Homo sapiens: one gene and its partner. The protein of the gene in region 1 interacts with the protein of each later gene in a biochemical or structural test. Each region holds a gene or a part of one and is shown in the gene's direction. Other genes may lie near its edges.

Region 1 (5,067 bases):
TGAAAAAAAAAACAGGGGGAGGGGGGCGGCAGAGAAAAGAAATAGGCATTTAGTAGTTTCCTACCTTTTCATCACTGGAATTCAAGTCTTGATTCCATCAGCTTTATAATATTGTCAAGAGTGTTTTCAGTATAAGTATGCTTATCCAGTCTGGTTAGGAATAGCAGGTGGTTTATTAACCAAGAGTCAAAGTACATAATCAAAAGAATTTATACTTAAATATCTGAAATATTTTAACATAAGATACATTCACCTGTATTCATTCATCACTTTTTAAATGAAAGACCAAACCTACCCTCTAAGTATATATCTCTGATCAAATTCCTTGTTGACTGTCTTTCATAAAATATATCCATAAATAACTTTCTAAAATTTTTAGTTTCATTTCTCAGAAATGAAAGGAGTAAGAAATTTAAAACTCTGGCAGAAGAGTATGTTAGAACGCATCTCTCTTTCTATGATTTTGTTTCTTTCTTTCTTTTTTTTTTTTTTTTTTTTTTTTTGAGACGGCGTCTCGCTCTGTCACCCAGGCTGGAGTGCAGTGGCGCAATCTCGGCTCACTGCAAGCTCCGCCTCCTGGGTTCACACCATTCTCCTGCCTCAACCTCCCAAGTAGCTGGGGCTACAGGCGCCCACCACCACACCCAGCTAATTTTTTGTATTTGTTAGTAGAGACGGGATTTCACCATGTTAGGCAGGATGGTCTTGATCTCCTAACCTCGTGATCCACCCACCTCGGCCTCCCAGAGTGCTGGGATTACAGGCGTGAGCCACTGTGCCTGGCCAATTTTTTTTTTTTTTAAAGAGACAGAGTCTCACTTTGTTGCCCAGGCTGGTCTTGAACTCCTGGGCTCAAGTAATCCTCCTGCCTTGGCCTCGCAAAGTACTGGGATTACAGGTGTGAGCCACCACACCCGGGCTCTGTGATTTGTTTGTTTTTTGAGATGGAGTCTCGCACTGTCATCCAGGCTGGAGTGCAATGGTGCAATCTCCGCTCACTGCAAACTCCGCCTCCCTGGCTCAAGTGATTCTCCTGCCTCAGCCTCCCGAGTAGCTGGGATTACAGGCACATGCCACTGCGCCAAGCTAATTTTTGTATTTTTAGTAGAAACGGGGTTTCACCATGTTGCCTGGGCTGGTCTTGAATTCCTGACCTCAGGTGATACTTGCCTCGCCCTCCCAAAGTGCTTGGATTACAGGCGTGAGCCAGTGCGCCCAGCCGCCTCTGTGATTTTTTAAATTGTGTCACTCACACTAAATTTAACAGCAATTTTTTTGATAACTCATTTTTTTTGTAGTCTTTCTAGAACATTAAACTTAGTTTTCATAGAAATTGCAATTCTCTTTGTATTTAATTAACTTACATAATTAAAATAACAACTGGCATAAACAGACTTGGGGAAAACTTAAACTCTTGGTAAGTTTAAAACTCAATTGAGTGGAGTAGAAGTATACAGAAAAAAAACAGGAATTGGAGAATAACCTATTAAACATGAATATTTAGTGTTCTTTTGGCATCAGTCGGTATGCTTTACACAGATAGTCCTCTGATTTGGGTAACTTGAGGTCAGTTAAGAGACCTTCATTTGTCCCCCAAAATCTGCCAAGATGGCAAAGTTTATTAGAGACCATTTCTGTCTAAAGGGGCAATCTTCATGGGGTGTATCGCCTTAGAATTTTTATAAATTCTTTACTGAAGATGTTAATAGCTTCTGGAATTTTCAAAGAAATATTGTCCTTATTGAATGAAAACAGTGCAAATTGTATTAGCTGTATGACTTAGGGTTTTGAATTATATAATAATCACTTTTCTATCGTTTGATTTTTTTTCATTTGTTTAAATGTGTATTGTTCCATGTTATACTTTATTTTACAGTGGTACAGAAAAAAAGAAAGAAAAACCACAAGGACAGAGAGAAAAAAAAGAGGAATCTCATTCTAATGATCAAAGTCCACAAATTCGAGCATCACCTTCTCCCCAGCCCTCTTCACAACCTCTCCAAATACACAGACAAACTCCAGAAAGCAAGAATGCTACTCCCACCAAAAGGTTTTAACTGTCCCCAAGTACAGAGCTAGGGAATGGTTGTAATGATACCTAAATTCTGTGACTTGGGAAAAAGTTAGCTATCCAAGGATTCTGAGAGAAAAAGCTGGTGGCTTTATTTTTCCCTTCTTCATTGCTTATAATTTATGCTTTATAGCCCATTGGGGAATAAAGAATTAAGGTCACAATTTCTCAGTTAAAACTGGAAAAAAAAAAAAAAAAAACTAAGTTATAAACAATCTGATGAAAAGAAGGCAGGAATAACCTAGTCGAAAACCAAACAATATTTTCTTAACCACATTTTTGAATACTTTTAAAATATGTATGTAACTATGCATAAATTTATAGCCATGGATAGAAAATGGCCATATGTAATTGTCCTCACTGTATTTTGGCATCATTACAACCTTCAACCTGCAAGGGCCCATCTCAAGTGGCTCTTCACTGTGGCTGCATCTCAGTTTCAGTTTTGGGTCTTGGGAGGATAAGTTCTTGCTTGAGTAGAGAAATGAATCCATTTCACCTGGTCTTTTCTATGCTAAAGGCTTGCTTGAGGGCTTCTGTGTCCGTAATAATTAATATTTTAAAGTTATGAGAAGGGGAAAAGGGAGAAATATTCTAACAATGTGTGTGAGCCTAAATTGAGAATCTAAACCTGCATGCTGGGAGTACAGTGCTACAGCTGCCTCCTAATCAAATATTGAGACCAATCTAATTAAATTTGCCTGTTTAGAAATGCTTATTCAAGCCTTGTGATTAGGAATAGTCATATTTTATCATCGTACTTCTGCTTGGAAATCTTAGGAAACTATTAAACCATTTCCAGAACTGGCTAGAATTTTAATAAAATAAATGACAACCATTCCTAAAAGATTTAAATTTTTATTTGATCAATTTAATATTTTGCCTCAAATCGCTAATGGAAATTGGGAAAACCAAAATACCCTTCACTTGATCGATGCATGTTTACCACTTACAAAATGCTTTGTCTGTGTGTCTCATGCAGATTCTTACCCAATCTAAATGGTTTGTAGTTTATCTGCCTGGTCTCCTGTGGAGTTTTTCTTGGATATAGCTTATTAACGTTACATAACTTTGGATTGTGTGTGGTTTAAGGTGGCTTTTTATAATCAGTCTCTTTAAGGTTCTGATTTCACTTGATATCTTCTTTGTCCCAGCATCTTTTTTTCAGCTTCTTGAGGTCTCCTGGAAATGTGCTTGCCCTCCTAAATTGCTCTTTGGATATACTGTTGCAAGAAGTATTGGAGACTGGATGAGTTTGAGGATAGTTAGCAATGCAATGAAAAAATCATTTGTAAAGAAACAAATTTCACTTATAAGTATAGGGAATCAGGATTGCCAATAACCACATTCTTATATAAAGTCTTGTTTATTTCTGATCATTGGTAAAATTGTCCCTAAAGATATAAACAAGAGTTTATACCTTGTTATATTTAGAAATTGTCATTTGTACCATATGTAATGTAATTACCTGAGGACATAATTGCACAAAAAATGAAAATGGCAGCCTTATAAAATTCAATGGCTATGAAAAAATACAGGTTTTTTTGTAACTACAAATTATAAGAAACATTACTCAGATGTAAGGAAATAATTTTTTTCTGTTAACAAAAGTGTTTTTTAAAAAAAATCAGGTAATATTTGTTCTAGTGAATCTTCTGAGTGATACAGAAAATTATAATACAGATTTGGGAATTGCCTTGTTTAACTCCTTCACTCATCCAGGCAGTCTTTCAACTAATCCTTCTCTTTTCTGGATTAGCTTTAAGGAAATGTTAATTGCTGCTTTTGTGTTCTGTTTAAATTGTCAGTTACATGTCTTTGATACTCAGAATTTTTCTCTAAGAAATTAATGTTCCTTCTAGCATAAAACGACCATCACCAGCTGAAAAGTCACATAATTCTTGGGAAAATTCAGATGATAGCCGTAATAAATTGTCGAAAATACCTTCAACACCCAAATTAATACCAAAAGTTACCAAAACTGCAGACAAGTAAGTATTGCACTTTCTTCATTATATCTGAAAAGTAATAATTATTTGGCTATTATGTTTGCATGTACAGTTATGTATGTCTGGTTTGAATCTTTTTTTTTTTTTTTTTTTTTTTTTGTGACAGAGTCTTGCTCTGTCGCCAGGCTGGAGTGCAGTGGCACCATCTTGGCTCACTGCAGCCTCTGCCTCCCAGGTTCAAGCAATTCTCCTGCCTCGGCCTCCCAAGTAGCTGGGACTATAGGCACGTGCCACCATGCCCAGCTAATTTTTGTATTTTTAGTAGAGACGGGGTTTCACCATGTTGGCCAGGATGGTCTCGATCTCTTGACCTCATGATCTGCCTGCCTCCGCCTCCCAAAGTGCTGGGATTCCAGGCGTGAGCCACCACGCCTGGCCTTGGTTTGAATCTTTTTAAAAACTCTGTATTATAATTTATACTTCTCTTATGGAGTCTCACTCTGTTGCCAGGCTGGAGTGCAGTGGCACAATCTTGGCTCACTGCAACCTCCGCCTCCCAGGTGCAAGCGATTGTCCTGCCTTAGCCTCCCGAGTAGCTGGGACTAGAGGTGTGCACCACCACGCCCAGCTAATTTTTGTATTTTTGGTAGAGATGGTGTTTTCACCACGTTAGCCAGGATGATCTCGATCTCTTGACCTCGTGATCCACCTGCCTTGGCCTGCCAAAGTGCTGGGATTACAGGCGTGAGCCACCGTGCCAGCCTGGTGTATGTTTTCTTTCAAGTCTTCTACAAAAAGTTGTATCTACCTTTTAAGGCTCCCAACTCAAACAATACGTGTTTTTTTTTTTTTTTTTTTTTTTTTTGAGACAGTGTCTCAGTCGTCCAGGCTGGAGTGCCATGGCACCATCACTATCATGTCTTACTGCAGCCTTCACCTTCCTGGGCTCAGGTGATTCTCCTACCCCAGCTTCCTGGGTAGTTGGGACTACAGACGCGTGCCACCATGCCCAACTAATGTTTTTGTATTTTTTTGTAAAGACAGGGT
Region 2 (5,067 bases), on another chromosome or scaffold:
TTTAAATAATACGTGAGGTATTTTGATCCTTTGTTCATTAATGCTTAATTTCGCTTTGCTTACTCTTAACTATATTTCTAGATAACACTATTTTACTGTGTGGCAGCCATTGTCAGTGAGTTTTTTTTAGGAAGAAAAGCTAAAATAATACTTTATGTATTTATACAAATAAACATAAAGTGATAATATTGTTCAGATTTACCTTTTGATTCAGGTGATCTCAAAAAGTCTTCCCCAAAGTATTCTTTGATATTGAATGCTTACCTTTTATTTACTTATGTTTGTTAGTTGCTTTAAAGTATTTTTCAAGCAAATAACTTTTTAATTTCTATTAATAAGTTACTTTTTATCATCTTAAGTTTAGATTCTGCATGTTTGCATATAATTAGAAATTAGGATTATATATGATCAGAAATTTGTGGACAATGATAGCACTTCCATAATACATAGGCTGATTTTAATATATTCGTAACCTCTGTGGCTCTGCCTTCAATCTCTTTTTCAGTGTTCATTGTGATTAATAAATTTATCTTGCAGCTTTTATGAACTTCATTTAATCTCTATAGACTTCCTTTCAGATTTCCAATTGTTATTTGAATAAATGAAAACTAAGCATTTGTAAGAATAATTCATAAATGACATTTAAAAGATACAGAACAATTTGGTAAATTAATGTTAGTTTTTACTTGTCAAGGTGGAATAGGCTTTTATCTTTAAAATTAAAGCTTTTTAATTTTAATTACTTGTACTTGCAATCTTAAGCATTTCTAAGCAGATAAGAAACAGAAAATTTCCAGTTTTATGGATTGTTTAACATTTTGGGGTTAAACTACTATATGGCAGACACTGTACTTGACAATAGGGACACAATAGTGGGACACAATAATTAAATCCAACATTTTTGTGTGGAAAATAGACAATAAATCAAATAATTATAGCAAAAAATAAATCAAATAATTATAGCCAAAAAGGAAATGACCATGCTGTGGTATTAGAGACAAACTAGAGGAGGAGAGCATTTTAGATAGAGTGTGCAGCAAAGGCCTCTCCGAGGATGTGAAATTTAAGCGTAGGTGGAGGATAAGGAGTCAGTCATCTGAAGGGTAGTGACAGGAAGGTTCCAGCTGTAGAGCCGGGCACGGTGACTCAACGCCTGTAATCCCAGCATTTTGGGAGGCTGAGGCGGGCAGATGACGAAGTCAAGAGATCAAGACCATCCTGGCCAACATGGTGAAACCCTGTCTCTACTAAAAATACAAAAATTAGCTGGGTGTGGTGGCACACGCCTGTAGTCCCAGCTACCTGGGAGGCTGAGGCAGGAGAATCGCTTGAACCCGGGAGGTGGAGGTTACAGTGAGCCAAGATCACGCCACTGCACTCCAGCCTGGAGACAAAGCAAGACTCTCTCAAAAAAGAAAAACAACAACAACAAAAACTTGCTTAGTATATATTTTTAAGTACTTTGTTTTCTGCATTTTAAATGGTCTTTCTTCTAACAATTTGACATATGCCTTTTTAAGGGGATATTTCTGTTAAGTTACTAGAAGGATTTCATTTCCTTTTAAAGAAATCTAGTGTTAACCTTTTCAGTTTCATTAGCTATGAGTAATTTTGGCAAAATTTTAAGATGACAAAAGAAAACCTTTAAAATGATTCAGAGAATACCAAGAATTTATCAGTCATTACTTGCCTAACCACAGCTCATCCCTTGCTCTTACCAAGTATAAAATGAGTTTAAAAACCTGAAGAAACTTTGGTGGAGCTGAATGAAAATGATGCCTCCTAAAGACTTGTTTGTACATATTATATGCAAGATATTCTTACAAAGTCCATATTTTCACCCAAGACATACTGCTTTTTCTTGCTCATGAAATCATCGGACAGCTTTGAATCTGTGTTTGGGAATGATGTAATCTAAATATTCATTATTATTTATTTTTGTCTTGACTTGTTGGCTGAGAGAAAAAGAAAGATAAGATACTTCTGAATTTCCAGTTAAATGTATTTGTAAATGTATTTTGCTCAGAATTTAGTTTTGCTTTAGATGTGCCATCAATGCTTATTTCTCCCTGTGTTTGAGGAGTGACTTTTGATATTATTGAAAATTCAGTTAAAAATAAAAGTCAATTTGTAATTCTAAATTAATTTTTATAACTTGAATTAAAGATTTTCTATGTAGCATGTTTCTATCTTGATATGTTGTATCTTGTTATGGTTTCCTAAAACTCTTATACATCTATTATTCATTCTTATCTCACTCACCCTCTTTTGTTTTTAAAAATGTTGTTCCACATCATAGAGACATTGATTACTGAGAGATTAAATACATATATGTCTCCAAGTTTGTGATTTTCTTCATTTTAATTACTGGTACTATATGGGCATTATTCTTTCTCTGCCTCCTAAAACAAACAAACAAAAATACCAGGAATTACATCAAGATCTGATATACTTACAATTTTGTGCTTTCCAGTATATCTTTGATTTATCTCAAATTCCTTGTAAATAGCATTTCCTGAGAATGGCATCAGCATTTATGATGTGTCAAGAATCAGTTATTTCTCATGCCATTTTGATTTAAAGTGCAAGTAGTCTGTGTGTGTGTGTTTCATACCTATAACTAATATCAAGTTCAAATTTTTCTGTTTCCATTAGTGTTTGTTTTATTGTTTAACATGTTGATATAATAATCCCTTTGGGGGAATGAATGGCATTTCTATGTGAAATTGCTAAATGTAAAGCTTATTCCTTCAGTTCAAGAACTTTCGATTTTACACACACACTCACACACACACACACATATATATTTTCCTGAAGGGCATTACGCATTCCTGCTTATATAAATCAGTTATTGAGAGCCCTTCCAGCCAGCCATGCTCACCCCCATTAAGGTTCTTACATCACTTTGAACAAGTAGCACTTACAAGTTGCGTGTTAATTTTCTGTGTTGCAGTCTGCATTCTGCATCTGACACTGTGCATCTTAAAGGACTGCAAGATGGTTTTCTTATTTGTATCTGTAATAAAATCTGATAGTAAGATGGCATTCAGCATGGATTTTTATATGTAGAAAGGGTGGGCATTAACAGTTTAAGCTTGTCTGTACTCAGGATCAGGTTATTCATATTAATAATTTGTGTGTAGAGTTAAAACTATGATGCTCTTGGAGAAAATTTCTGCAAGGTTTTTCCTTCCTTCCATAAATAGTGTCATATGGTTTGTTCTTTAATACTGGTAATTTTTTTAACCCCTGCTATTGGTGTCCATTTATATCTAGCTCATTTTGTCAAAGCTTAATGTATACAACAGCTTAATGTTAGCTAAAACATATCTTACTAGATAGTTTATGTGAACTTTGTGATAGTGATTTGCCACTCATAGTCCTTTCCTTTTTTTTTTTTAACCCCTTTTCCTTTCCTTGCTGTTGTTTCATCGTGTTGCATTCTGTTCCATTCTGAAATCATGGTAGTTAACATGAGTTTACTGTGGCTGACATGGTTAGAATTACTGCTAATGGAAAAAAGAGAAGTTAACTCTCTTTAATATATGTACCGGCATACATATTTCTTCTTCTGTTATTTGATTAAGTGGGAGAAACTTTGATGTAATCTAGTCTGTCTCTTTTTGTAAACCATCAAGTAAGGTAAGGCTTTATATTTTTTCAAATCTTAAACTGCAGTGCTCAATATTTTACATTAAAAGTTGCAGAACGTAAATTTGATACTTGAAGTTTTCATTAGAAGTAGTAGAACCAAAATAATGTTAGTGAAAAAGCATATATATCATTTTATATACTGCTATTTTCACTATGCAAAAAGCACATGCGTTTGTACAAGAAATAGAAGGGACTGAGCCAAAGCTAAAATTCTTTAAGGCAGTGAGTTTATGGATTTTATTTTTGCTTTATAATCTTATCTAATATCTTCATATGGTTTTTTAAATTAAGACAAATTAGAACTTTGTGTATCTTTGGATATTAAGAATGATATCTAGAAAAAGTTGCCTCTTATAAGCTGTAATTTTACACCCTTATTCCATATTTACTTTTATGCAGTAGATATCTTTTGTTTCTGACTGGCAGAATCCTATAATTCTTTCAAGGTTCACCTCTAATGGTACCCGCCACCCTACATGGAAGGAATTTCTTCCTTAGGTTTCTAATACTACACTTTGTACACACATATATTTTAATACTTATTAGCTAGTTGTGTATGCATTAGACTTTGTGACAGCCTGGCTCATTGAGAAAACACTGACTATGGAGCTAGAACAACCTGGCTTCAAGTCCTGATTCTGTCCTTTACTAGTTTTATGATCATAAGCATATTATTTAATCTTTTTGAGCCTCAATCCTCATCTTGTTATTGTGGCCAATACTACCTGTCTTATAAGATTGCAATGAAGTTTAAAGCATCATGTGTAAAGAGGCCAGCCCTCTCTGGTAGTGTCTAATAACTACTTCTTTAATTAAAAAGACTTGGATTCTGCCACTCCTTTGACATTGTACCTTCTTTTCCTGGAATGTTAGCTGGCTGAATCAGGAAGACTTGATCAAGCTGATTACTAAAAATGTCATTAATTTTTTTATTTGTTATGTAACTAGGGTTTTAATCAGCTTGCAGTACTGACTTAGATTTTTTTTGCAGTCTCTAAGATATTGCTTTTTTAAATGTTATTTTCCACACACTTAGAACCTTGAGAGATTTGTGTTTTCAGAGACACATGAAATATCTTTTTGATTGTATTTTTTATTTTTATGTTTTTAACAGTAGGTTAATATTTTTCAACCTTTTCTTCATTATCCTCCCCCCAAGCTGCCTGTTTAGACATTTCTTCCTAATTACCTCTACCCATGAAATTTTAATTCCACAAATACAGTATATCTGTTTATGTGTAGTACTGTATGTGTATCTATACTTTATACTTAATAGAGTAAAATTTTGTTACCCTTCTCCACAAAGAACCAATTTTCACCCCCTTGGAATGATATCACCCTTGTCAAGAATGCATGCATCAGACCTTTTAGACATGATTTGATGGAACAGATTAATGGTTCAGTGCTTGGGTT

Evidence for each region.
Region 2: of the proteins of EML4 (region 1) and NEK7, one has a biochemical effect on the other in vitro, tested with the Homo sapiens proteins (one study listed by BioGRID).

Annotation. Positions count from the first base shown.
Region 1 is NC_000002.12:42,259,245-42,264,311, forward strand, and holds part of EML4 (echinoderm microtubule-associated protein-like 4), read left to right. Parts: intron 1-1,876; coding exon 1,877-2,050; intron 2,051-3,933; coding exon 3,934-4,062; intron 4,063-5,067. UniProt on the Homo sapiens protein: Essential for the formation and stability of microtubules (MTs). Required for the organization of the mitotic spindle and for the proper attachment of kinetochores to MTs. Promotes the recruitment of NUDC to the mitotic spindle for mitotic progression.
Region 2 is NC_000001.11:198,257,028-198,262,094, forward strand, and holds part of NEK7 (serine/threonine-protein kinase Nek7), read left to right. Parts: intron 1-5,067. UniProt on the Homo sapiens protein: Protein kinase which plays an important role in mitotic cell cycle progression. Required for microtubule nucleation activity of the centrosome, robust mitotic spindle formation and cytokinesis.